Regions from separate parts of the Homo sapiens genome. Here regions 2 and 3 are each linked to region 1. Evidence: fine-mapped expression QTL. A gene starts in region 1. Each other region holds a variant in brackets. All regions are shown on one strand. Distances are from middle to middle.

Region 1 (8,177 bases):
CTCCCTGTGAAGGATCTGGGGAAGAATCCTTCCTTGCTCTTTCAGATCCTGATGGCTGCTGGCAATCCTTGGTGTTCCTTGCCTTGTAGAAGCATTGCTCCAATCTCTGCCCCCATCTTCACTTGATGTTCTCCCGTGTGTGTGGGGGGGGTGGGGTGGGGGGAGTCTAGCCTGTGTCTCTGTATCCAGCTCTCCCTCCCATTTCTCTTATGAAGACACCAGCCATTGAATTTAGAACCCACCCTAATATAGCATGACCTCATCTTAAGTTGATTACGTCTGCAAAAACCCTATTTCCAAATAAGGTCACGTCCACAGGTACCAGGGCTTAGGCCTTGAAAATAACTTGCTAGGGGTCACAGTATAGGCCACTACACTGGCAATCATGAAGCACATGTTGAAATGGAGCCTTATCAGTCAGCCTGAGTCCCAAATTGACTGCCGTGAGACAGGCCTGTGTCTCCCAGCTCACTTCATTTCAGTCACGTGGCCCCCAAGTAAAGAGACAGGCTGAATCATCTGCACCAGGTAAAGCTTCCATCTCTCTTGCTTTTTGGTGACTACCTTTAACGGATTCATATACATGACATGAGTCTGTACTGTATATGATCTTCTCGTAACTGTCTCTGGACTGTCCTTCATGGGACATATTCCTGTTGCTGGTCACTTACTGAATGCCTGCCATATGCCTATTATCGTGCTGTGTGCCAAGAGGGATGCATAGAAAATTAGACACAAGGATCCTAATCATGAAAAGTGTACAATCTAATATAGTGGGCAGGACAGAAAAGACTTATATCAGCATTGGCTGAAATTGTCAGGGGAGACCAAATAATAAGGCTTAATAAGAGGTAACCCTAACAGAGCTCCCAGTCTGTTCCAGGCACTGTGATAAGCATTTTGCAGGTATTATTAAATTCCATAGGGGTTGTACCCCATGAGGTTGGTATTTTATAACCATTTTACAAGACCGGAAACAGAGGCTTCAAAAGGTTGTGTAACTTGCCCAGTGGTCACACAGGATTCCAATCCTGATCAGCCTGTCTCACAAACATTGGGTTCTATAGACGCTCCTAGATTGCATTTTCGTTTAAGCTGAGCCTTGATGGTCTGCTGGAATATGGTAGGCTACACTTTACACACACAAGGCTCATTTCACCTAATACAGTTATGCCTGGGCAGAAGTGATCATGTGGCAATATCAACAGGTTACAGTAATAGAAAAGAATCAATAAACTACTGTTTCATTTCTATGTCATTGTTGCTAAGTTGTCCCAACTACCTTTTTTAATGGACTAATCCAAACTCTTTTTTTTTTTCATTTTTCCCTTTATAACAATTGAAGTCAGACTTCATTTTTCAAACTTGGCCTCAGATACAAAGATGACATATCAAGAGCCTTCATTTCTCTCCTAAAGCATTAAAGCAATTAAAATTTCCAAAAGAACATGAAACTAAACAACCCTATTTTTAAGTGTTTCCAAACTTATTTCTTTTTTTTAAACTTGTTTCAAAACAGCCTTATGAGGACTGTTTTCCAAACAGCTGTGTAAGAAGCCAGCCACTTTTGAAATCTGATTTTTCCTGTGTAGACATATCATATTTTCTATGCTTGAAGAAGCAGGGAATACCCAAGCTGGCATTCAATAGTAGCGAATATGAAATAGACCATTAAAAGAAAGTCATAGGAATGTTAAAATCCATGTTGACTGGTTTTTACATTTACCCGGCAGCATTCCCGAGCTAGCGTTGGCATGGAGACTGGAAAAGGAAACTTTCCACAAGTCTGTCACTTGCTACTGTTTCTACTTACTCCACTGTGAGTCCAATTTTAACATTTTTTTAAGTTGAAAAAAGGGTTTGACTCCTTTTGTGTTTTCTGTTCAAGGCGTTTTTTAAACATGAGAACACGTGTGAAAAAGGTTTTTAAAAATCAGCCAAAGATTGGGGTTTCCAAATATTCAGCTGTTTAACATTCAGATAATTGCCTGCCTTCCCCCCGCTATCCCCCACATTTCGTCTGAATGCTTTGGCACGGGGGAGCCCCACAGTCTGAAAGTAACTCTGTCCCAACTCTCCTTACTGCATTTATTAAAGAGGCTGAAAGACGCATCTGCTTTTCAATAGTTTGCGGTTCTTAAGAGACCAGGAAAGCCAGAGGTTCTGACTATTCAGGAAGAAAGTTGGGTTTCCCAAAACGGGCAAGCAAGTTCGGTGTGGTCACATCTAGGTATTCTTGACGTCATTTTTGTTGAGGGAAACAGGCTGCAGTTTTTGGAGCCAGGCTAGGATGAGAGATGGAGGGCAAATCTGTCACTTATTCTTTCCTGGTGTGCCTGGAACCCACTAGACACTCAATTCATGTTTACGTGAATGAAGGAATCACAATAACGCCCTATCGCATCTGTAAAACCGAAGGGTGATTTTCCTGGGCTGGAAAGTTTAAGAAAGAAGAGAGAGCTGCGTACCTAGGGCTTAAGGGGCCTCAGGCTGGCACTCGAAACCAGGCGTTCTCATTTCCCTTTGGCATCACCCTGAACGGCTGTGCCTGGAGCTGGCGCGGGGCTGAAGAGGGGAGGAAATACATGTGAGGAAAATCAGAGGAGAGGGTCGGGAACAGATGTGGGCATAAAGGGAAGGCCTCTGACTTGAAATAAACAAATAGGAGTCCCGCAGCTGGAAGGACAAATCCTTTCACGTCGCGGGTGATGTGGGATTGGGGCGATTTTGCTCTCCCTTTGTTCTTTCCCCTGCCTTCCACGTTTCCAGGGTATTTGATTGATGTCTGTCTTCTCTGTTAAGTTATTCCACCGTGAGGAGAGAGCCGGTGGCAGTACCTGGCACGCAGCGGGCGCCCAGTATAGACCTGCTGAACAAACGAATGGATTCAGGGGCTGCTGTGTCCCCCTCACCCACCCCCCGCCCCCTATGTGTCCACAGCGCCCCGCACGTAGTAGGCGACCCCTAAACATCTGTACAGCAAATGATTTGCAAGTTTTCGGCGCTGAGCACGTGGAGCTTTGGAAACCAGGACAGCAAATGAGTGTCTCGGAGACCACAAAAGCGGTTCCGGCGCGTGCGAAAGGCGGTGGCTGGGCGACGGCGGAGGGAACGGCGCAGAGCGGGGCGCCCCGCCGGGAGCGCTGCCTGCGTGGCGCCCGAGGCGGGGGCGCGGGGGGCCGCGCATAGCACGTGCTCGTCTGGGAGCCGGCCGGGCCGAGGCGGGCGCGCGTGTGCGCGTGGGGCGTGGGGTGTGTGCCCGCGCCGTGCCCCCCGCGTGTGCTGCCGGGCGGGCGCCGGCGTGAGTCACGGCGGGGCTAGCCTTTATAACGGCCCGGAGGCTCGCGGGAGCCGCCGCGCCCGTCCGCCCGCCGCTCCGCGCTCCACCCAGCGCACCCGGGCCCCGCGCCCCCAACTGCCTCCGGCGGCCGCCCAGTCCCGAGGGCGCCATGAGGAGCCTGTGCTGCGCCCCACTCCTGCTCCTCTTGCTGCTGCCGCCGCTGCTGCTCACGCCCCGCGCTGGGGACGCCGCCGTGATCACCGGGGTAAGCGGCCCGGGCGCACCTGTCTGCCCCTGATGCGCGCCTGGGATGTGCCCAGGGGGCTTGGGACGGGGACCCTGAAGGGCAGGCTAGAGGCAAAGGGAGGGTCGCCCTGGGCGGGGACACCTGCCCCTGTCGCCCCTTGGTGCACTTGGGAAAATACCCAGATCCAAAAGCAGCAGACGGCTGGGGACACTGGGCGCGTCCTGGAAGAAACAGTGACAAGGATGTCGCCCACCACCTTTATTACCACCTTCTCCCGCTTACTTCTCCCTCATCACCCACGGCCTCACTCCTCGCATTTTTCTTCTGTTAGGCTGAAAGAAGTTTCTCTCTGAGTCTTCTCAAGTACTTTTGGAGGCTCTCCAACCTCGAACCTTAAAATTTGACGGCCCCTTCCTGAAATGCAAAGGACCAAGACGAATTCCCCAAGTGCCCAGAGTCTTAATCCTACAGTCAAAGAGTTTGCTCCCCGATGCGTCCTCCGCAGAAACCCTTTGAAATCGCTTGGTCCAGGGCCATGTGAGCGCTTTGAAAAGCAATTGTGGGAGCTTCCTTCTGGGTTCCGGGGCTTTCCCCCGCGCTCAGGGTCTTGAGGTATCCCCATAAAAGTTTTAAATTTCTAATTCCTGGCAAAGCACCTCCAGTGCTCCAGCATAATGATGGAGTAGGTTGCTGTGTAGATGTTTAAACTTAGAGACGATGTTTTCATCTTTTCTGTAAGTAGGAACTAGTTCAGTTCTCTCCCACTCTCAACAATTTTGTGTGGATCTGAAAAAATTGGGTTTGCAGTACAATACTAAATAGTCTAGTTTACATTAACAAGGCAAAACTGCTATCATTTCCTGGTTGTTCAACTTCTTTACTGTTTTTTAAGTGAGGAATTATTTCACACCTTCATTAAATTACTTCAAATATTTAAGTGCACATAATGGGATTTAAATAAAACGTCTATGTTTGAAATGTTGATACATAGATAATATCATTTGACTTTAAAGGAAGTATCTTTGTCTTGAAAAAATCAAGCTCTATTTTCTCTATATTAGTTATTAGGTTTATAGAATTTTGAAAGTCCTTTTGCTATGACAGCATTTGTATATATCCAACAGATATTTAACTGTAAGCTCTGTGATATTTATTAGAAAAGAGATTTTTTCAAAAAATTACTTGCATAGCTTTGCCAGTCCATGTGGTTGAGAAAAACTTTTTGCAGGTCTTTCTAATACATGAGAATTGAAACATGATTGGATTTTTTTCTCCCTCTTCTCCTGCTGGCTCATTTAAAGTTTCTCCTAATCCTCTGAGCCCAAGATCCCTTTGCAATATAAGTATCTTTTTGTTCCATTCACAGGACAACACTATCTGAATAGATTTGCAATGGGTTAAGGATGAAGGGCATTAGGAAACAGCTGTCTAATTAAAAATATATAAACCTATGCAACTCTTTGTAAATTTTCCAAGAACTGAAGCTTTTGTTACAAAATAAAATTTTATCACATTGGCTGTCTATCTGTTAGAGAGGCTTAGACTGGGCTTATTATATAGTTATGTGTGCTGTTTTTGTTGTTGTTATTTTAACTCAGTGTTACAAAAAGAGAATTTTAAAAATGTCTCTAAAGCAACAGGGCAATAAAATGTAGTTATGTCTCCATGACAGGAACCATCTGGATTCAAATGAAAAACTCAGTAACTTATCAAGATACATTGTGTATAGCATGTTAAACATCCAGGTGATTGAATTTTAAAAGATTTTGGCTGGATTTTTGATTGGTTCATAAAAAAAAGCTCATGGGGCCTCAAAATTCGAGGTATTGAGCATCTGTTGAAATAAAATGCTGGCTAAAACTTTCACCTGACATCCACAGTTTTTTGGGTAGTGTATGTAGGTATTTTGAAATTGATTTATATGCCCACATAGATTTGTTAAAACTATATTGTAAAAGATCATTGACTAGACATCTTATTTATGGGATGTAATGGCTACATATACATGATTTCTGGCATGCAGATAAAAATTGGAAAATTGAAACATTTACATATTGTCCTATAAAATCCAAACACCTCAAGGTGAAATTTTTAGCTTTTATCCAGATACTTTGTTTAAATAGACTGAGAAATAAATTCTAATGAGGGAAGTAAATGAACTTTAAAGCAAAATAGTTGGTTACTTTTAATGAGAAATAATGTTAAGAATGTACCCATATTTTTATATCTTGAGAAGTTATGACTGTCCTCAAAACTAAGAATTTTGAAGGACTGTTTTAGTTGTTTCCACTAATTGTACATTTAAATTTGTGCCTAGATGATAGAGGTTTTAGTTTCTTACATATATAGTACAGGATGTTTTTATCTTATCACTACCAAAACAGATTACTGCCCACGGTTCAAACAAAGCATTCTATTTTTTGTTGGTTCTAGGAAAGAATAATAGTTCTTCAGATCCATTTTCATGCAAATAGATTTAGATTTTATTATTTATTTCTATTTACTAGAGTATGGAAATTCCTCCATAGTTGATTGTTTCATTGTATGTATTTACAACTTTTATATTGAAAGCAGGTGACTTGAGTAATTACTATTGACAATTGCACCTGTTACTTGCATTTCTTAATTTGATGGATCTTACAGGATTGTTAGCTGATTTTGTAATGTACATATATGTTTATGCTAAGCCAGTAATTTGCTCTTTGCAGCTTATTCACCTGAAGGAAGAGTAACATAAGGCAAGCATCTTGGTCTGTCCACTTTCAAACTATGAGACTTCTTTAAAGAGAAAATGGTGAAAAAGCAAGTCAGTGGTGTGAGAAACGTCAAGTCTCTTGAACCAAAATGCAAATATTTGAAGGGGAAAATGAGCACTTCTGAAATTTACATCAGTGCCTTTATGGGTCTGGAGTGTTTCATGCCAGATTTAGAGACTATTTAAATCTCTTTTTTTAAATTGGCCCCAGTGTATTCTGCAGTTAATAGTCACAAAATCTTGTGATTCCATTTATGTAGTTCCTAATGGCCATGTGTAGTATAAGAGTAATATAGTCTTGTTCTTCAAGTTCAAAGCCAATTCAGCCATAAAGCACTGGAAAAAGAGAGCTGATTTCATTTAAAAAAAAATCTTATGTTTATTTAAGATTTTCATAATCCAGGGGCTAGAATTTAGCCCACTTTCGAAAAATGAGAAATAGCTATTCTGATCAGATTTTATAATAGCTATATACAAGTAAATGAAGGTTATCATTTAAAAAATATACCTGATTATTAAAGTCCAAGTGTTTAGATATTTAAAGGGCATTTCACTGCTAATTTTAGGTTTCCTTAGCCTGAGTCTTTCCTGTTATCTATATTTATCTGTTTGTTTATTACATTTCAGGCTTGTGACAAGGACTCCCAATGTGGTGGAGGCATGTGCTGTGCTGTCAGTATCTGGGTCAAGAGCATAAGGATTTGCACACCTATGGGCAAACTGGGAGACAGCTGCCATCCACTGACTCGTAAAGTTAGTATATATATATTTGTATTCATGGTGGTTCTACTGTGGTAACTCTGAGCAGGGTCTGTATGACATGAAGGACTGGGTAACGTGCTCGACAAACAAAATGAATATTGGACATTAGCAAGGATAACAGTGTAAAACTACCCCCTCTCCTCTCCCCTTTCATTTCAAAGAATTGTATCCTCTGTCTTTCTTATTCCAGTGATAGTTTTCATGTTACTGCTCTCATGGTGTTAGAAGCATTTTACCAATATAATTTGCAACACATGAATTTGCTTAAAAGTTATTTAGAACAAAAATATATATTATACTCTAGTATGCATCTTTGCAGAAATCTGAGTATAGAAGTTCTTAAAAAGACTGCTTTTAATATTAGATCTACTGATAAGGCAGAAGTAAGGAAGCTCTGTGTTTTGGGATTTTTTAGAAAATCGATTATACAATTACTCTTGTATGTTAGTTTAAATATTCTATATTTTGACTCTACCTACAGGACACATTTTTCAAAATTTTAGAGATCGATGATATTTAATTTTCCAATTTGCTTTATTATCTGTCAGCTCAATATCACAGTGACCTAAATAACACTTTTGAAAAGTTATTAACAGTAGTGGCATGATCATAGGGTGGCAGGATTGGACAGGGTTTGAGAGATTGTATCTCCAAGGGTTGCAGACCCACCTGTCTACAGGGGTCAGGAAGGTTTATATTACATGAGGAAGCGGGTGGGTGGGAGGCAGAAGGCATGTGGAGCTGGAGGTTCTTGGCCTTCTGGTTGAAAACCTTTGAAACACAGTGTGGTCTCAACAGAGCACCCCAGGAATGCCAGGTTGCATTGCCTTCCTCTGGTCCCACCTCCGCATTTTTCCCATTGGTAAAGTGCCTCCAGTGGCGTTGCAACAAGTCCTAGGGCAGGTGGTTTTCGAGAGGCAGAGCTCAGTCTCTTTAGAATGTTCTTTCTACACATTGTATACTTTCTTTTAGATACAAGTAGAATGTTATCAGAGCAAACCAAATTCCATTTTCTGTCTTATTTTTTCACATGTGATTTAGGGTTTAAAAATGTAACACAGCCAAACATCATTCCCATACTCCACAGTCCCAGAGAACAGTTAATATTTTCACCTCCTCGGAGTGAACAGAAT
Region 2 (8,177 bases), 20 kb before region 1:
CAATGCCTGACACGTAGTGTCCAATAAATATTTGATTGGATAAACGAATACATGTTTTCAAAAGGAGACAAATTCCCTGGAAAAGGTACACAAGCAAGAAAATTTTGCAAGTGTTCAATTTTTGTCTATGAAAGCTTTAGTATACTTTTTAAAAAACTGAAGCATATTACATTCCATTTTTTTCTTTCTCACTATGAATCTTCATAGAAGTAAATACTTTAAAGTATAGTTTAATGGGTAGGGGTTTGTTGTTTGTTTGTAAAAATTTATGGAGTACAAGTATAATTTTGTTACTTGTATAGATTTTGTAGTGGTGAAGTCAGGGCTTCTAGGGTATCCATCAACCCAAATTATGTACATTACGCCCGTTAAGAAATTTCTCATCATACACTTCTTTCCATACCCCATCCTTCCAAGTCTTCCATGTCTGTCTTTGCGTACTCTGTGCCCATGTGTACACATTATTTAGTTCCCACTTATAAGCGAAAACATGTGGTATTTATCTCTCTATTTCTGAGTGGTTTCACTTAAGCTGATGGTCTCCAGTTCCATCCATGTTGCTATGGAAGACATGACTTCATTCTTTTTTGTGTCTGCTTAGTATTCCATTGTGTATACATACCACAGTTTCTTTATCCATTCATCTATTGATGGAAATGGTTAGGTTTCATGGGTAGGTATAAGTCTGGTTCCAAAACTAGACCTTTATGTTCAAATCCCAGCTCTTCCACTGACCTGTTTTGGGTTTAGTGTGTGTGTATGTATGTAACTTGACATATACCTGGTTTCCTCATGTGAAACATGAAGTAAATAATAGTCTCCACCTCATAGGATTGTTGAGAGAGTAAATAGCTAATATAGCTGAAGGGCTTGGCATATGTTTTGACACTGTGCTGAAGAAGGCATTGGCTACCATTACTATTATTATTCGAAGAAGACATTTTTAGTTTCATCTCCTACATAATTTTGCAGCCCACTAGGTAGTATATTTCTGGCTGTAAGGCTTGGAAAAACCCATCCTAAATGACATAAAAAATAAGGTGGCTGGGCATGGTGGCTCAAGCCTATAATCACAGTACTTTGGGAGACCGAGGCAGGTGGGTGGCTTCAATTCAGGAGTTGGAGACCAGCCTAGGCAACATAGTGAAATCCTATCTGTTAAAAAAGTACAAAAATTAGCCAGGTGTAGTGGCGCATGCCTGTAGTCCCAGCTACATGAGGGGCTGAGACAGGAGGCTTATTTCAGCCTGGGAGGTTGAGGCTTCAGTGAGCCCTCTTGCTGCCACTACACTCTAGCCTAGGCAACAAAATGAGACCCTGTCTTAATAATAATAATAATAATAATAATAATAATAATAATAATAATAATAATGAAATGGCTGGGCTCAGTGGCTCATGCCTATAATCCCAGCACTTTTGGAGGCCGAGGAGGGAGGGTTGCTTGAGGCCAGGAGTTTGAGACCAGCATGGGCAACATGGTGAAACCCCATCTCTATAAAACACTTCAAAAATTAGCCAGACGTGGTGGCACACGTCTGTAGTCCCAGCTACTCAGGAGGCTAAGGTGGGAGGATCACTTGATCCTGGGAGGTCAAGGCTGCAGTGAGCCCAGATCACACGACTGCACTCCAGCCTGGGCAACAGAGCAAGACCTTGTCTCAAAAATAAATAAATAAAAAATAAGACAGTAAGGAAATGTATTATCTTACCTAACTGGAAGGAGTGGCACCATCAGTAGCTGAAAGATGTCGTCAGATAACTGACTCTCTCCGTCTTTCTCATGATGTTGTAAGCCTCATTTCCAAGTGCCTCATAATAACAAGACAGTTGTCAGTGGCAACTGGAGCTACATACTTCTTTGTTCTCAACTACCTGGTCAAAAATGGAAAAACCACATCTCCAAGTGTGTAATATAAATGTTTCCTTCATTTTGATTGAACCAGTCCTAGTCACAGGACCAATGAGTCATGCAGGCAGGTGATGGGGGAATGGCACATGCCAATAGCCTCCTTAAGATTCACTCCTGGCCTGGCGCGGTGGCTCACGCCTGTAATCTCAGCACTTTGGGAGGCCGAGGTGGGCAGATCACGAGGTCAGGACATCGAGACCATCCTGGCCAACATGGTGAAACCCCGTCTCACTAAAAATACAAAAAATTAGCCGGGCATGGTGGTGGGTGCCTATAGTCCCAGCTACTTGGGAGGCTGAGGCAGGAGAATTGCTTGAACCGGGGAGGCAGAGGTTGCAGTGAGCCGAGATTGTGCCGCTGCACTCCAGCCTGGCGACAGAGTGAAACTCTGTCTCAAAAAAAAAAAAAAAGATTTACTTCTAGAGTCTCGGGTCACATTCTTCTAAGCTATACTTGGTCAGAATCGGAGTTGTGTTAGGAAGAAAGACACAAGTGAATGGATGCGGGGCAATCAGTGTTCACCAATGTACTATTGCTCTCAGAAAATATGGAGATGCCTCTTTTTTCATATTTTAAAAAACTTCTCAATTTTTAATTTTTTTTAAGTTTTAAATTTTTGGAAATAATTGTTTTGTTTTGTTAGTTTTTAGAAAAAGGATCTCACTCTGTTGCCCAGGCAAGAGTGCTGTGGCATGATGACAGCTTACTGCAGTCTCCGACTTCTGGGCTCAAACAGTCCTTCCGCCTCAGCTTCACAAAGTGCTGGGATTACAGGCATGAGAGAGGATGAATTCTAACACATTACATTGTGGTTAGAAACTATGTTACCAGATATAAGAAATAAAATAAAATTACATCTTCATATGTATATTTTATATATTTATAGCTAGCATTTATTGAGTGATTGCTTTGTGCCAGATCTGGCTTTGTGCCAGATAGTCACTCAGATACTATTAAGTGATTGCTTTGTGCCAGATACTACCCATCATTTCCATCAGCCTTCACAAATACCCTTATTTATTTCCTCAGAAAATACTTATGAAGCCCCTACCATACTTCAGGCACTGTCTTGTCACTGGGAATATAGCAACAGCAGGAAAAGACCAAGACCCAGTCCCTCATGGAAACTACATTCGAGAAATAGGAAACTGTGGCTGAGAGGGATTGAGTGAATTGCCCAAAGTTACACAGCTTGAATGTAGCAGAGTCGAGATTTGAACTTCAGAAGTCTAATCTAACTCCAAAGTCAAGAATGGGTGTATTAGTCTGTTCTTGCACTACTATAAAGAAATACCTGAGACTGGGTAATTTATAAAGAAAAGAGGTTTAATTGGTTCATGATTCCTCAGGCTTTACAGGAAGCATACTGGCTTCTGCTTTTGGGGTGGCCTCAG[G/A]AAATGTACAATCATGGCAGAATGTGAAGGGGAAGCAGGCACATGTTACATGGCCACCCCAGGAGGAAGAGAGAAATGGGGGAGGTGCCACACAGCTTTAAACAACCAGATCTTGTGAGAACTCACTCGCTATACTGTACCAAGGGGGGATGGTACTAAACCATTCATGAGAAACCCGCCCTCATGATCCAATCACCTCCCGCAAGTCCCACCTCCAGCATTGGGGGTTGTAATAATTCCAGTTCTCAGCCAATGGCAGGCTTCCTTCTTTCAAGCCTTGACTTTTCAGGGGAGAGCTCTCTGGGGCCTGGAGGAGGCATTGCTCTAGGGGTCAGGCACCATGCCCCACAGTGGCATCACTGCTTGAGAGCACCCAGAACAATGAAAGGCAGCCTGTGAGCCAGGGGAGGGTCCACTCAAACCAAGGGTGTATGGAGCAAACTGCGTAAGCATTGAGGCCCCAGGAGAGATTTGCACAGGAGATGCAGGTGCCCAGTATGATCAATCCCTCTCCCCAGACCTCCAGCCATCATTTGCAATAACCGAAGTTAACATTACCTGATGCTTTGCTTCTGGGGAACCAGTGTGCACAACCTCCTTAAAAAAAATAAGGGTTTGGCTGGGCTTGGTGGCTCACACCCATAATCCCAGCACTTTGGGAGGCCAAGGCAGGTGAATCACCTGAGGTAAGGAGTTCGAGACCAGCCTGGCCAACATGGCAAAACCTCATCTCTACAAAAAATACAAAAATCAGCCAGGTGTGGTGCTGCACACCTGTAATCCCAGCTACTCGGGAGGCTGAGGCAGGAGAATTGCTTGAAACTGGGAGATGGAGGTTGCAGTGAGCCGAGATTATGCCAATGCACTCTAGCCTGGGCAACAAGAGTGAAACTGCGTCTCCAAAAAAAAAAAAAAGAAAAGAAAAGAAAAAAAGGAAAAAAAACGGTTTGTGGCATGTAGTGGGGCGAGACTTTCAGATTTCTGAGCAGGAACCTAAGCTGATAGAAGAATTGTACACACTAAAAATGCCTGGTCCCTGTCATATTGTAGTGATCTGTGACCTTAAATTTAAGTATTCAACTTTCACCAGGTTATTTTGAATTTGAGTTCTGCTAGATAGAATCAAACCTATGTAAGGCTGGGCACGGCAGCTCGCGCCTGTAAATCCCAGCACTTTGGGAGGCCAAGACAGGTGGATCATTGAGGTCAGGAGTTTGAGACGAGGCTGACCAACATGGTGAAACCCTGTCTCTACTAAAAATATTAAAAAATTAGCCAGGCATGGTGGTGCACGCCTGTAATCCCAGCTACTCAGGAGACTGAGGTAGGAGAATTGCTTGAACCCAGGAGATGGAGATTGTAATGAGCCAAGATCACTCCACTGCACCCCAGCCTGGGCGTCAGGGGGAGACTCTGTCTTATAAAAAAATAAAAAGAATCAAACCTATGTTACTAATTGTTACTGAATCATCTGAATTTGACTGGCTTCAAAAGTGTCTTTCCAACAGGACTGTTTGTTTAATTGGGTTTAATATTATGCATTTTTCAACCAGTCTTGAAGAAGTTTTCAAACTCCCACTATGTGTCAGGTGCTATGCTAGGCACTGGGTGAATTAAAAAGGCATAGTCTGGTCCCCGGAAGCAGACTCAGAGATAAAGATTTTTGTGAAAATGATTTATGAAGGCAGGGTCTCCTGGGAACACTGGGCAAAGTAAGAGTAGGGGAACACGGCAAAGCAAGAGGAAGAAGCCCACCAGAGTGGCGATCTCAAACCAAAGGCCAGACTCCACCTGATCCTGCAGGGAGCTCTGGAGAGTCAACTGCATCTAAGGGTTTTTCCTGAGTCAGAATAAAGGAGCTGGGCTTTCATTCTGCTGGGTTAGCAGGTCCTTGGCTACTGGCTACCCCAAGCAGAAAAAAGCACTCCGGCATTTCTGGCCCTCTGCACAAGCAGAGCAGGGCCTCTCTGGGAGCCTGAGAGCAGTTCTGTTGCAGGTCCCACTGACATAGCAAAAGAACAATGCAGCCAAAGTAGGAGAGCATGGAAATGGTAAAGGAATGTGAGGGCTTCTGAGCTGAGCATCAGCAGTGGCTGCTACAAGGTCCCTAAAAGATGGTAATAGTCAGGGGCTAGGCACTCACGCCTGTAATCCTAGCACTTTGGGAGGCCGAGGCAGGTGGGTCACTTGAGGTCAGGAGTTTGAGACCAGCCTGGCCAACATGGTGAAACCCCATCTCTACTAAAAATACAAAAAAAGTAGCTGGGCATGATGGCTGATGCCTGTTATCCCAGCTACTTAGGAGGCTGAGGGATGAGAATCGTTTGAACCTAGGAGGTGGAGGTCGCAGTGAGCTGAGATCACACCACAGCACTCCAGCCTGGGTGACAGAGGGAGACTCTGCCTTTAAATAATAATAATAATAATGTTTTACCAGCTATCTGGGCATCCCTTCTCCCAGTCAGCTTGACACATAAAATTAACCATTATATCTGCCATTATCAAATGCAATAAATGCAGCATAGGAAATAAATAAAGTGCAATTTTGTAAGTACCTATTTGGGAAGAGGCAGACATTCTCAACCTGCAAGCACTCTAACCTTTCCCCTTCCCCTGACTCCCCAACTAGACATAGGCCCCGTGCTGGTGATGGAGCAGCCATGGTGCCCCCACCAGGAGCTATGTGTGAGGACCAACATTCCAAGAATGGCTGGGTGGGAAGATGGAAGAAGCCCCTGCCTCTGATGGCATCGTGGAGCATGGGCACCAGCCCTGGACTGCTGTCTCCAGATTGCTTTTATGTGAGGAATACAATACCAGTGGTAAAAAGCCAGAGGACGTTAGATTTTTCTGTTTCATGCAGCTGAACTTAATCCTAGCTGGTCTCCAAGCCTTAGAGGAAGGATTGGCCTTAGAGAGATGAGAGCACTTGTTTAATTTCACAGGAAGAAGCAGCAGAGGGTAAATGCAAAAGTAGGGAAGAGGCTTCTCACACTAGCTTTTTAATAGAGGTAGAGATGATTGTGACACTCTAATAAAGGAGCACTCAACACAGTAAGTGAAAGGGCATGGCTTATGATCTCTGTGAGAGTCTTCACCTGCAGAAAGCTGGTTCATTTAACCCAGGGCTTTTCAATCTCAGCACTATGGATGTTTGGGGTGGTTACTCCTTTGCTGTAGGGGGCTGTCCTATGTAGTGTGGGGTGTTTAGTAGCATCCTGGCCTCTACCCACAGTAGCACCTCCCCCGAGATGTGACAAACAAAAAAAGTCTCCAGACATTGCCAAATGTCCCCTGGGGGACAACATCAACCCCAGTTGCAAATCACTGGTTTAGCCTGTGAACTTATTCTCTCAGAAAGATATTTAAAACCTAGAAGGGTTTTTTTGTTTTTCTGTTTTTTTGTTTTTTGATGGGAGGAAGGAATGAGGGAGTGACGGAGATGTTGGTTAAACGATACAACATTTCGGTTAAACAGGAGAAATAAGTTCAAGAGATCTATTGTACAACATGGTGACTATAGTTAATAACAATGACTGGGCACAGTGGCTCACACCCATAATCCCAGCACGCTGGGAGACCAAAGTGGGTGGATCACCTGAGGTCAGGAGTTTGAGACCAGCCTGGCCAACATGGTGAAACCCTGTCTCTACCAAAAACAAAAACAAAAACAAAAAATTAGCTGGGCATGGTGGCACATGCCTGTGATCCCAGCTACTCGGGAGGCTGAAGCAGGAGAATCGCTTGAACCCAGGAGGCAGAGGGTGTGGTGAGCTGAGATTGTGCCACTGCACTCCAGCCTGGGTGACAGAGCAAAACTCCATCTCAAAAAACAAACAAACAAAAATATGTGAGGTATGCATATGGTAATTCACTCAGTTTAGCCATTCCGCATGTATACATATTTCAAAACAACATGCTGTATATGAAATATACCTTTTTTACTTGTCAATTTAAATAAATAATTTTAATTGACAGCAAGCTATATTACTCCTATATTTGTGGTTTAGTTATTTTTAAAAAACGCATTGTATCAAGCAACCAAGGAAAAAAACACCTCAACAAGTATTATTTTAATTATCTACAAACTTTATAATTATTGACAAATTATATCCAAACTGTAAGGAAGCTGAAAAAATAATCTTCTTTTGGTTCTACAGGTCTACTACCTTCCTTTAATTAAACATCGAAAACAAAAATTGGCAACTAGAAAAATATATAGTAATATCAATCACAGAACAAATTCACTATAAATGCACCTTAGCTAAGACATTTCCCACTAATACATCCACAATTTCCACATCTATAAATGGAGACGCTTATGCAAGAAAGCCCAGAAGTTTCTTTCTCCTTTAAAATTAAAATCATTCCATGATTCACTGCACAATTTTTGAGTTATGCTGGACCTTAAAATATGATTCCATTTACAAAAATGTGATTTACATGCAAATTTGGGGAAAATAGGTCTATAGAAAGAGGCATCCTGGCTAGGCACGGTGGCTCAAGGCTGCAATACCAGCACCTTGGGAGATCGAGGTAGAAGATGGATTACTTGAGGTCAAAAGTTCGAGACCAGGCTGACTAACATGGTGAAACCCCGTCTCTACTAATAATACAAAAAAATTAGCAGGGTGTGGTGGTGTGTGTCTGTAGTCCCAGCTACTTAGGAGGCTGAGGCCAGAGAATTGCTTGAACCTGGGAGGTGGAGGCTGCAGTGAGCTGAGATCACACCACTGCACTCCAGCCTAGGCAACAGAGTGAGACTCCATTTAAAAAAAAAAAAAAAAAAAAAAAAAAAGAATGAGGCACACTATGTTTTTTCTTCCAGAGGTTCTGTTAAAGAATATAATTATTTTAAGGTAGGAAAATCATCA
Region 3 (8,201 bases), 60 kb before region 1:
TCTAGTGGCTAAAAACAATAATCATTTCTTATTCTTTATTACTCTGTGGGTCAGCTGGTTGGTTCTTCTGTCTGGGCCAAATTTATTGGTCTCTACGGACAGCTGGTGGCCCAGCTGGGGCTGATGGATCCCAGATGACCTCACTCAAATGTCTGGCAGTTAGCAGAGATGGCTGGATGGCTGAGGCCTCCCTTCACATGGTCTGTTGAGATGATCTAGGATGGCTTGACTCACATCTCTGGGAACTCATCTGGACTAGCTGGGGCCATGCTCCATGTGGTGTCTCATCCTCCAGTAGGCTGGCCTGAGCTCCTTCACGTGGTGGTCTCGAGGTTTCAATAGCAAAAGAGGGAAAGCCCTGGTACACAAGCATTTTCCGAGCCTCTGATTGCATGATGTTTATTAGTATCCTATTGGCTGAACAAAGTTGCATAGTGATGCCCAGATTCAAGAGATGGAGAAATGGACTCATTCTCTAGTTAGTATGTCTAGTAGAATTTTCTTCAATGAAAGAAATATTTCATATCTGCCCTGTCTAAGTGGTAGCCACTAGCCACATGGGGCTATTGAGCACTTGAAATGTGGCTAATACAACTGAGGAACTGAATTTTTCATTTTAATTTATTTAAGCTTAAATTTAAATGGGTACATGTGGCTGGTAGCTACCACACTGAGTAGTGTAGTTCTAGATACAGAATCCCTTATGGTATATTCTAGCCAAAAATGCTTGTCTTGAATCCATCAGTCCTTTAGATCTAACCTATCATTTGCAGGAGATGGAGGGGTACAGGAATCAGCTACATGGCACAGTAAGGAAGCAATCAGACAAATCTAGAAGGTGAGATATTCCACAGGAAAACCAGTCCAGTGTCCTCAACAAGCCAATGTCATCAAAAAGGAAATCAGGATAGACTGGGTAGAAATAAGGACTATATCAGCCAGATTTGATTCTTGAGAGGATTTCTGGAGAGGACAAGCCAGTTATAAAGGTCTTTTTAGCTTAATTGGTGAAATTTGAATATGGTTTAGCTATTCAATGACATAAAAATATACTGAGTGGGCCAGACACAGTGGCTCGGCTGAGGTGGACAGATCACTTGAGCCCAGGAATTCAAGACCAGCCTGGGCAACATAGTGATGCCCTGTCTCTACAAAAAATACAACAACAACAACAACAACAAAATTAGCCCAGTGTGACAGTAGTTGTAGTCCTAGTTACCCAAGACACTGAGGTGGGAGGATCACCTGAGCCCAGGAGGTAGAGGCTGCAGTGAGCAGTGTTTGCGCTACCGTACTCCAGCCTGGGCGGCAGAGTGAGACCCTGTCTCAAAAAAAAAGTACTGAAGTGGAAAGGTAAAGATCATTGGCTGAAAATGTAAGTTTTAAGACAGTAAGTGGAGTGTCATCTCACACTGGTAAAGCAGAATACATACTAATATGTGTGTATATAAATACAAATATATGTACAAATACATAAAGATTCGGAAGCATATGGACGAAGATCTAACATATGGTGATTCTGGGTGATGGTAAGGTGAAGTTTTTGTTTGTGTTTCCTAATTTTCTATAAATATAAATGCACTGCTTCTATACTAGTGAAGAGGTTATTCAATATAAAAGAGATAAAGACGCTACTAAGTGTCTCGGAGGTGCCAGAGACAAGCAGCTATTTTACAGTGTTTATGCGCGTGCGTTTGTTTAGGAAATGCTCTATCCCGATAACGTTGCAGATAATACGTGCGGACAAGGGGAGACCTATGAGGCTCAGCAGCTGCTGAAAGGGTTTAGCTAATCTCGAGGATCTGGTAAGTGGATCACTTCCTTGTGACACCACAGAAGCTCCAGCCATCAATTTGGATTAGTCAGTCAGCATATCCCATTGGGCAGCATGTTCTAGAGTGTTCTAGTATGAATCATTCATGGAGGCTTCTGGTTATGTTACTTGGTTTCCCTCAGAAATAATGGCCCCAGGGATTGAATGCTGTGTAACAGAGAAAGTGAATAAATTGGTGCAGGCCCTGCCAGGTGTCAAACAAATAGGAATATATCACAGGAAAAGTGCTCCATCTATAATTAATGACAACATTTTTAAGCTTTACCAGAAATTGATAATACAGTGGTTTCTTTTAATGCATTTTCCCTTTAGTAATGTGTACATATTTTAAAGTAGGTCTAGCATTAAATATACATCAAACTCTTCTTATAGAAAAATGTAATCGTTGAATAGAAAAATATTATATTTATAAATATCTCATTGTTACATTTTATGCAATTATTCACTCTGGGTGTTCAGTGTAGAAGTTTCAGGAATATAATACTTGTCACAGAAAGCATATTCAAGACTATCAAGTAAAAAAGCAAACTTATGACTGCCAATTTTTTTGAACTTTTGGCATAATTTCCAAATTGCTACTGTCATAATAAAAATCTAGATTGCCACTAGTTTGTCTTGGAATTACATGGCTATCTTTTAAAATAAGCATATATTGTCATTTCTGAGTTACAAACCCATTTAGGTAGCTTAATCTTTCTAGCAGTCAACTGAATAATTAAATAGTAAGGTAAGAGCTTTTATTATCCCTCAAATCTGCAATTGAACATTTGCCATGAAACAAATGGATACATTTCTCTTCAGGATCCATTAGGGAGAAAGGGGAATTTTAAAACTCTTAAAGTCTAGCAAACAGCAGTTGTTCAAGTGTTAAGTTCTACCAAATAAAATTAAGTGAAATCAAATTCTCTTCCCATTTGTATACTTTATGTCTTTGTTCAAATTGCTTGTTCTGAGACACAATAGGCTGTCACACCTGTCCCCTAAATTTCCAAAACATTAAGTCATCACTCTATTGTCTAACTTCTATTAGTGCCATATGCATTCTCCCTTAAATTTGAGAGTAAACACAAGCTTTAACAAGTTCCCAAAATCATCTTATTTTTTTCAAGAGTCTCCAACAGTCAACATTGTTATCAAGTCCCTAAGAATATTATTGTTTCATTATAGTTCATTTGCAATTGATACACAATATGATTTTTTGGTTATAGACAAAGAACAAGAATGATTTTGTGCACCTTTGTATTTATAAGTGGTCTCTCAAACTGCTGGCCCAGGGATCCATCAATAAACATCCATCAGGTTTATTGAGCATAGTTATCTACAAAGTGTTTCATCTAAATGAGGAAGGTGGTGGGCATCACAGGAGGAGAAAGGCAAAGCCTTCAGAGCTAGATAGTGTGCATTGCACATATTCATTCTTCTATATACAACAAGAACTTGCAATACACCAAGCATCATGCTAGGTGTTAGAGACACAGCAGTGAACAACACAGGCACTCACGTAATTTTCAGACTGCTGGGAGCACCAGATATTTGAAGTAACTATGCAATTAATTAACTGCAATCATGAGAAGTGATATGAAATACACACATGATAAGAGTATGTAACAAGGCAACCTGACCTGTTGGGGACAGAAAATGAGGGCTGAATGGTGGGCAGGGGATCACTTAGGAAAGGCTTAACTAAGCAAAGAGAAGGAGGAGAAGGAGTTAGTAGATGAAGAGCAGAGAGTATTACAGACAAGGAGGGAACAGCATGTACTAAGGCCCTGGGGTGGGAAGGAGCATAGCAGTTCTAGGAATTGAAAGAAAGCAAGGATGGTTGAAATGCAGAGACTGAATAAGAGAATGGCAGGATATGGCCAGAAAGAAGCAGAGGTCAAGGAGATGATACAGGTCACCCAAAAGACACCATGTAAATTTCATTTTCTGGGGTTAGGTTTGAGAAAAAAGGAAAGATTGGGCCAAATAGTTAGGCTTTAATATAATAAACAACAGTGCCCCCATTTGAGTAGGAGAAAAAACTTTCTGTCAATGGTATTTGAGCAATAGAGCATAGCTAGGTTGGTAAAAGGGGAAAAAAATACGCAATCTGAAGAGAAACCAGAGTATTAGCCAGGCTGGGATCAGGAGTGAGACTGGAGACAGAGCTTCCAGCTCAGAGGATCTGCAGAACTCTGTCCAAGGGGCTTATGAGTAGACGTGGAAGGAAAAAAGGAAACGTGCAGCTGAGACACATTCATTAGAGGGACAAGAACCCACTGGCTTTGTGAGAGAACAGAGGAAAGGAGGGAAGGAGAGAGAGGAATTGAAACAAAGCAAAGAATATGAACAATGCTCATGGCATTGATTCACCAATAATTGATAGGAGTTGGTGGAAAATACCCCTCATCTTCATGAGTCGTGTTCTGTAGCATCTCCCAGAGGTCCCCAGTGGGATTGAGTCTTCGTTTTTACATTTCTTCTTCTTTTTGTTTTTGTTTTGCTTTGTTTGAAATGAGGTCTCACTCTGTCACCCAGGCTGGAGTGCAGTGGCACGATCATAGTTCACTGCAGCCTCAACCTCCCAGGCTCAAGCGATCCTCCCACCTCAGCCTCCCAAGTAGCTGGGACCACCACTGAGAGCTACCATGCCTGGCTAAGACACTAAGACAGGGTGAGTAGAGAGGAGAAGATGGAAAACACACACACAAGCACACATACACGCATTTTAAGTTTGGCAGCTTCGACACAGACGACAAGTGGGATATAGCTTTGGCCACCATTTCCATGCACATGATCACTGAATCCCACAGAGGCTGAGTTTCTCAGAGAAGAGAGGCTCAGACATTGCTGAAGGATCTGGGAAGGTACACTTAAGGTGGTGTCGGGGATGCTGTTATGAATGAGAGTGACAAAGGGGTTTGGTTTTGGAGGCTTCATTGCGGAAAGCTTTCAAAACAGTTGCTCAGAAATTTGGAGGTGAATCTATGCCTTTGAGAAAATTGTGGAAGAACAGCACACGTGATA[T/C]ATGGAAAACTTCTGTGTTTACGTAATTTTCTTGTCATTATTTTGTGTAGTAATATTGTTACTTCAGTAAGAGGTTAGGCAATTTATTTACGAAAACTGGCTGGGCACGGTGGCTTATGTCTGTAATCTCAGCACTTTAGGAGACTGAGCCAGGCAGATTGCTTGAGCATTAAAGGTCAAGACCAGCCTGGCTAACCTCTCCAGACTCTGTGTCTACAAAAGATTTAAAAATTAGACAGGTGTGGGGGAACGCACTTGTAGTCCCAGCTACTCAAGAGGCTGAAGGGAGAGAATCACCCGAGCCTGGGAGGTTGAGGCTGCAGTGAGCCAAGATCGTGCCACTGCACTTAAGCCTGGACAATAGAGTGAGACCCTGTCGCAAAACAGCAATAACAAAAGAAAGCTAATTTGTATGTGCCTTATAGGATCCACTTAAGGATAGTTCTAGTATATTTCCAAAGGTTTTTTTTTTTTTAGAACTTCAAGAAGGCTTTTTTTTTTTTCTGGTATGTTTCCAAAGGTTTTTTTAGAACTTCATGAAACCTGTTGCCCAGGCTGGAGTGCAGTGGCATGATCAATCTTGGCTCACTGCAACTTCTGTATCCTGGGCTCAAGTGATTCTCCTGCCTCAGCCTCCCGAGTAGCTGGGATTACAGGCATGCGCCACCACACCAGACTAATTTTTGTATTTTTAATAGAGATGGGGTTTCGCCATTTGGCCTGGCTGGTCTCAGATTCCTGACCTCAAGTGATCCACCCACCTCGGCCTCCCAAAGTGCTGGGATTACAGGCATGAGCCACTATGCCTGGCCTACACAAAACCAATTTTTAAAATGCTGAGTGTACACTGCCTTACACTTATCTAGCCCATTGTTATCCTAAATATTTCACAACAATTTACACCGCTTTAATCCTTACCAAATATTGGTGAGGAAATGCATTCTGATTCTCATTCTCAAGATGAGGAAATTGACACAGAGAGGAAAAGTGACTCATCTAGTTACTAGTTACTTCCATGGTTGATGATAAACCTGACACAACCGTGCGGACGGCTTCACTTCTAGCATATCTCTGGTTTGAATTTAATTAGAAATGAGTCTAATTTAATAGGTTTGTTCTGTCGTTGGACATTTCATGGTTTATGAAGGAAATGCTCCTGGAGCTATCATTTTGAAATGAAAGGGCATGTGTTCTAAGAAGGTTTTTTTCCTCCCCTAGGAGCTATTTAGATTACGTAGTTCAATGGGGTTATAATAAAGATTTGTCTTTTCTTGTGGTCCCTTAAGAAAAGGACTTCAGTAATAAAAGATCTTTTAAGATGAAGGGCTTACCCCCCTAACCCACAAAAAACCCCCACAGGATCAGGAAGTATAGCTGGGGACATACTTCCAAAGAAATTTAGTCCAATAGAGTTCACTTGATATTTTTAAAGGTCTCTATTACCTAAATTAATAAACTGAATATTTTCCAATTTTTTCCTTTTTCTGTCTTAAGCAGTTTACTTCTGTCTTCTACTTAAAGATGCTCATTAAGATTGATCATCACACCAGGCATGGTGGCAGGCACCTGTAGTCCCAGCTACTTGGGAGGCTGAGGCAGGAGGATAGACTGAGATTAGGAGTTCAAGATCAGCCTGGGCAACATAGTGAGACCCCATGTTAAAAAATAAAAATAAATTGATCTTCAGAGAGTGTATTGGTTTGCTAAGGCTGTTATAAGAAAATACCACAGACTGTGTGGCTTAAACAACAGAAGTTTCTCATGGTTCTGGAAGCTGTCCAAGATCAAGGTGCCCGCAGGTTTGGTTTCCTTCTGAGGCCTCTCTCCTTGGCTTGCAGATGGCCACCTTCTTACTGCTGTTAAAGCGAACTAAATATGGCCTGAGAAGGACTCCGTACTTCTATATTTGAGTCCTTGTGGGCGAACTGAAGCCTAACTTAATAGGTAGACAAGATCGAAACCCTAACTTAGGAGTATGCGCCTGGAACGATCGCTGAGTCTTGGCCAATCCCAGCAGCCACACTTCAACTACTCATACACTGCCGAGTGTTCCAACTGTGCTCAAATAAGGCAAACACTGAGCTGTAACCAATCCAGCTGTTTCTGTACCTCACTTCTGATTTCTGTACGTCACTTTTCTTTTTTCATCCGTAAATTGTTCTGACCGTGAGGCACTCCTGAAGTCTCTGAATCTGCTGTGATTCCGGGGGCTGGCTGATTTACCAATCGTTCATTGCTCAATTAAACTCCTTTAAATTTCATTCGGCCCAAGTTTTTCCTTTAACACTGCGTCCTCACGTGGTCTTCCCTCTGTACACATGCGTGTCTGGTGTCTCTTTTTGTGTCCAAATTTCTTTTTCTTATAAAAGGATACTAGTCAGATTGGATTAGGCCTGCCGTACTTTGAAGGGCTTATCTCCGAAAGTATTCAGGCCCACCCATATGTCCTCATTTAACCTTAATTAACTCTTTAAAGGGCCTATTTCCAAATATAGGAACATTCTGAAGTACTTGACATTAGGGCTTCAACATGGGGATTTTGGGGGTTGACAAAGACTTTTTCTAAATAACCTTTGGCCAGGCTCCTCTGAGAGCCTGGCCAAAAGCAAACAACAACAACAACAACCAAAAAAAAAACCAAAAAGCTAGGCCTAAACCTTGTATTCTTCCATTAAAATCCAGTCTTAGCAACAATCCTGGTAAGTCAGCTTAGCAAGAATCCTCAACCTTGGCAACTATTCAACTTCCCCCTCAGATCCAATGCCTCATCCCCCACTCTTGGTATCTGATCACCTTGACCTCCCTTCAGCAAGAGTCCTATCAAGTCAGTTTAGCCAGAGACCCCTCTTACTCCTACTGTCTCCTCTTAGTAATTTTCTATCCATTGAACCCCTCCACCCTGCTCCTTGGCCATAAATTCCCACTTTTTCATGCTGTATTCAAAATTATTGCATTCCAAGTTCTATACTGAGGTCTTTTCTCCCCTATTGTAACAGTTTCTTTTTGAATACAGTTTACTTTCACTGCTTTAACTTCTGGCCAGCCCTGGTTTTCTTTAACAGGGGACACAATTCAACCCATTACAGAGAGGATATAAGCATGTTCATTTGTGGGTCTTTCAGAACTGAAAAGTGATTTTCCCCCTTTCTGGAAAGGTAATGTTGACCTCTTTGATCCTTGAGTATTCTCCACTCTGAGGAGTGAAAAACACTCCACTCCACTGCACAACAGCCCTTCACTCTGTTGTGCAGTACCCAACACATTGCCCCGCAACCCAGATGATGACCCTCAGATCCCTCCAACCCCAGATTGGCGCATGCAACTGGATAGAAGCAGAGTTTAAACTTGGGCTCTTAAA

What was found. PIP is the estimated chance that this variant, and not a neighbour inherited with it, causes the effect.
Region 2: its variant is fine-mapped to the expression of PROK2 in whole blood (TOPMed, PIP above 0.99). The same link has a PIP of 0.9 or more in blood mononuclear cells, monocytes, monocytes after LPS, neutrophils and spleen.
Region 3: its variant is fine-mapped to the expression of PROK2 in whole blood (TOPMed, PIP above 0.99).

Annotation. Positions count from the first base shown.
Region 1 is chr3:71,780,325-71,788,501 of GRCh38, reverse strand. PROK2 (prokineticin 2) reads left to right here and starts at 3,354. Exons shown (of 4, transcript NM_001126128.2): 1 at 3,354-3,545; 2 at 6,910-7,035. The coding sequence starts at 3,450. It overlaps LOC105377156 (a long non-coding RNA gene), which reads right to left and starts at 3,112. Exons shown (of 4, transcript NR_199161.1): 1 at 2,979-3,112; 2 at 2,755-2,866; 3 at 2,469-2,565; 4 at 2,075-2,285.
Region 2 is chr3:71,800,563-71,808,739 of GRCh38, reverse strand. No RefSeq gene overlaps it. Among named protein-coding and RNA genes, the nearest start is that of PROK2, 20 kb to the right of the region's middle. The variant G/A (reference allele first, on the strand shown) is at 3,304.
Region 3 is chr3:71,839,983-71,848,183 of GRCh38, reverse strand. No RefSeq gene overlaps it. Among named protein-coding and RNA genes, the nearest start is that of PROK2, 59 kb to the right of the region's middle. The variant T/C (reference allele first, on the strand shown) is at 4,844.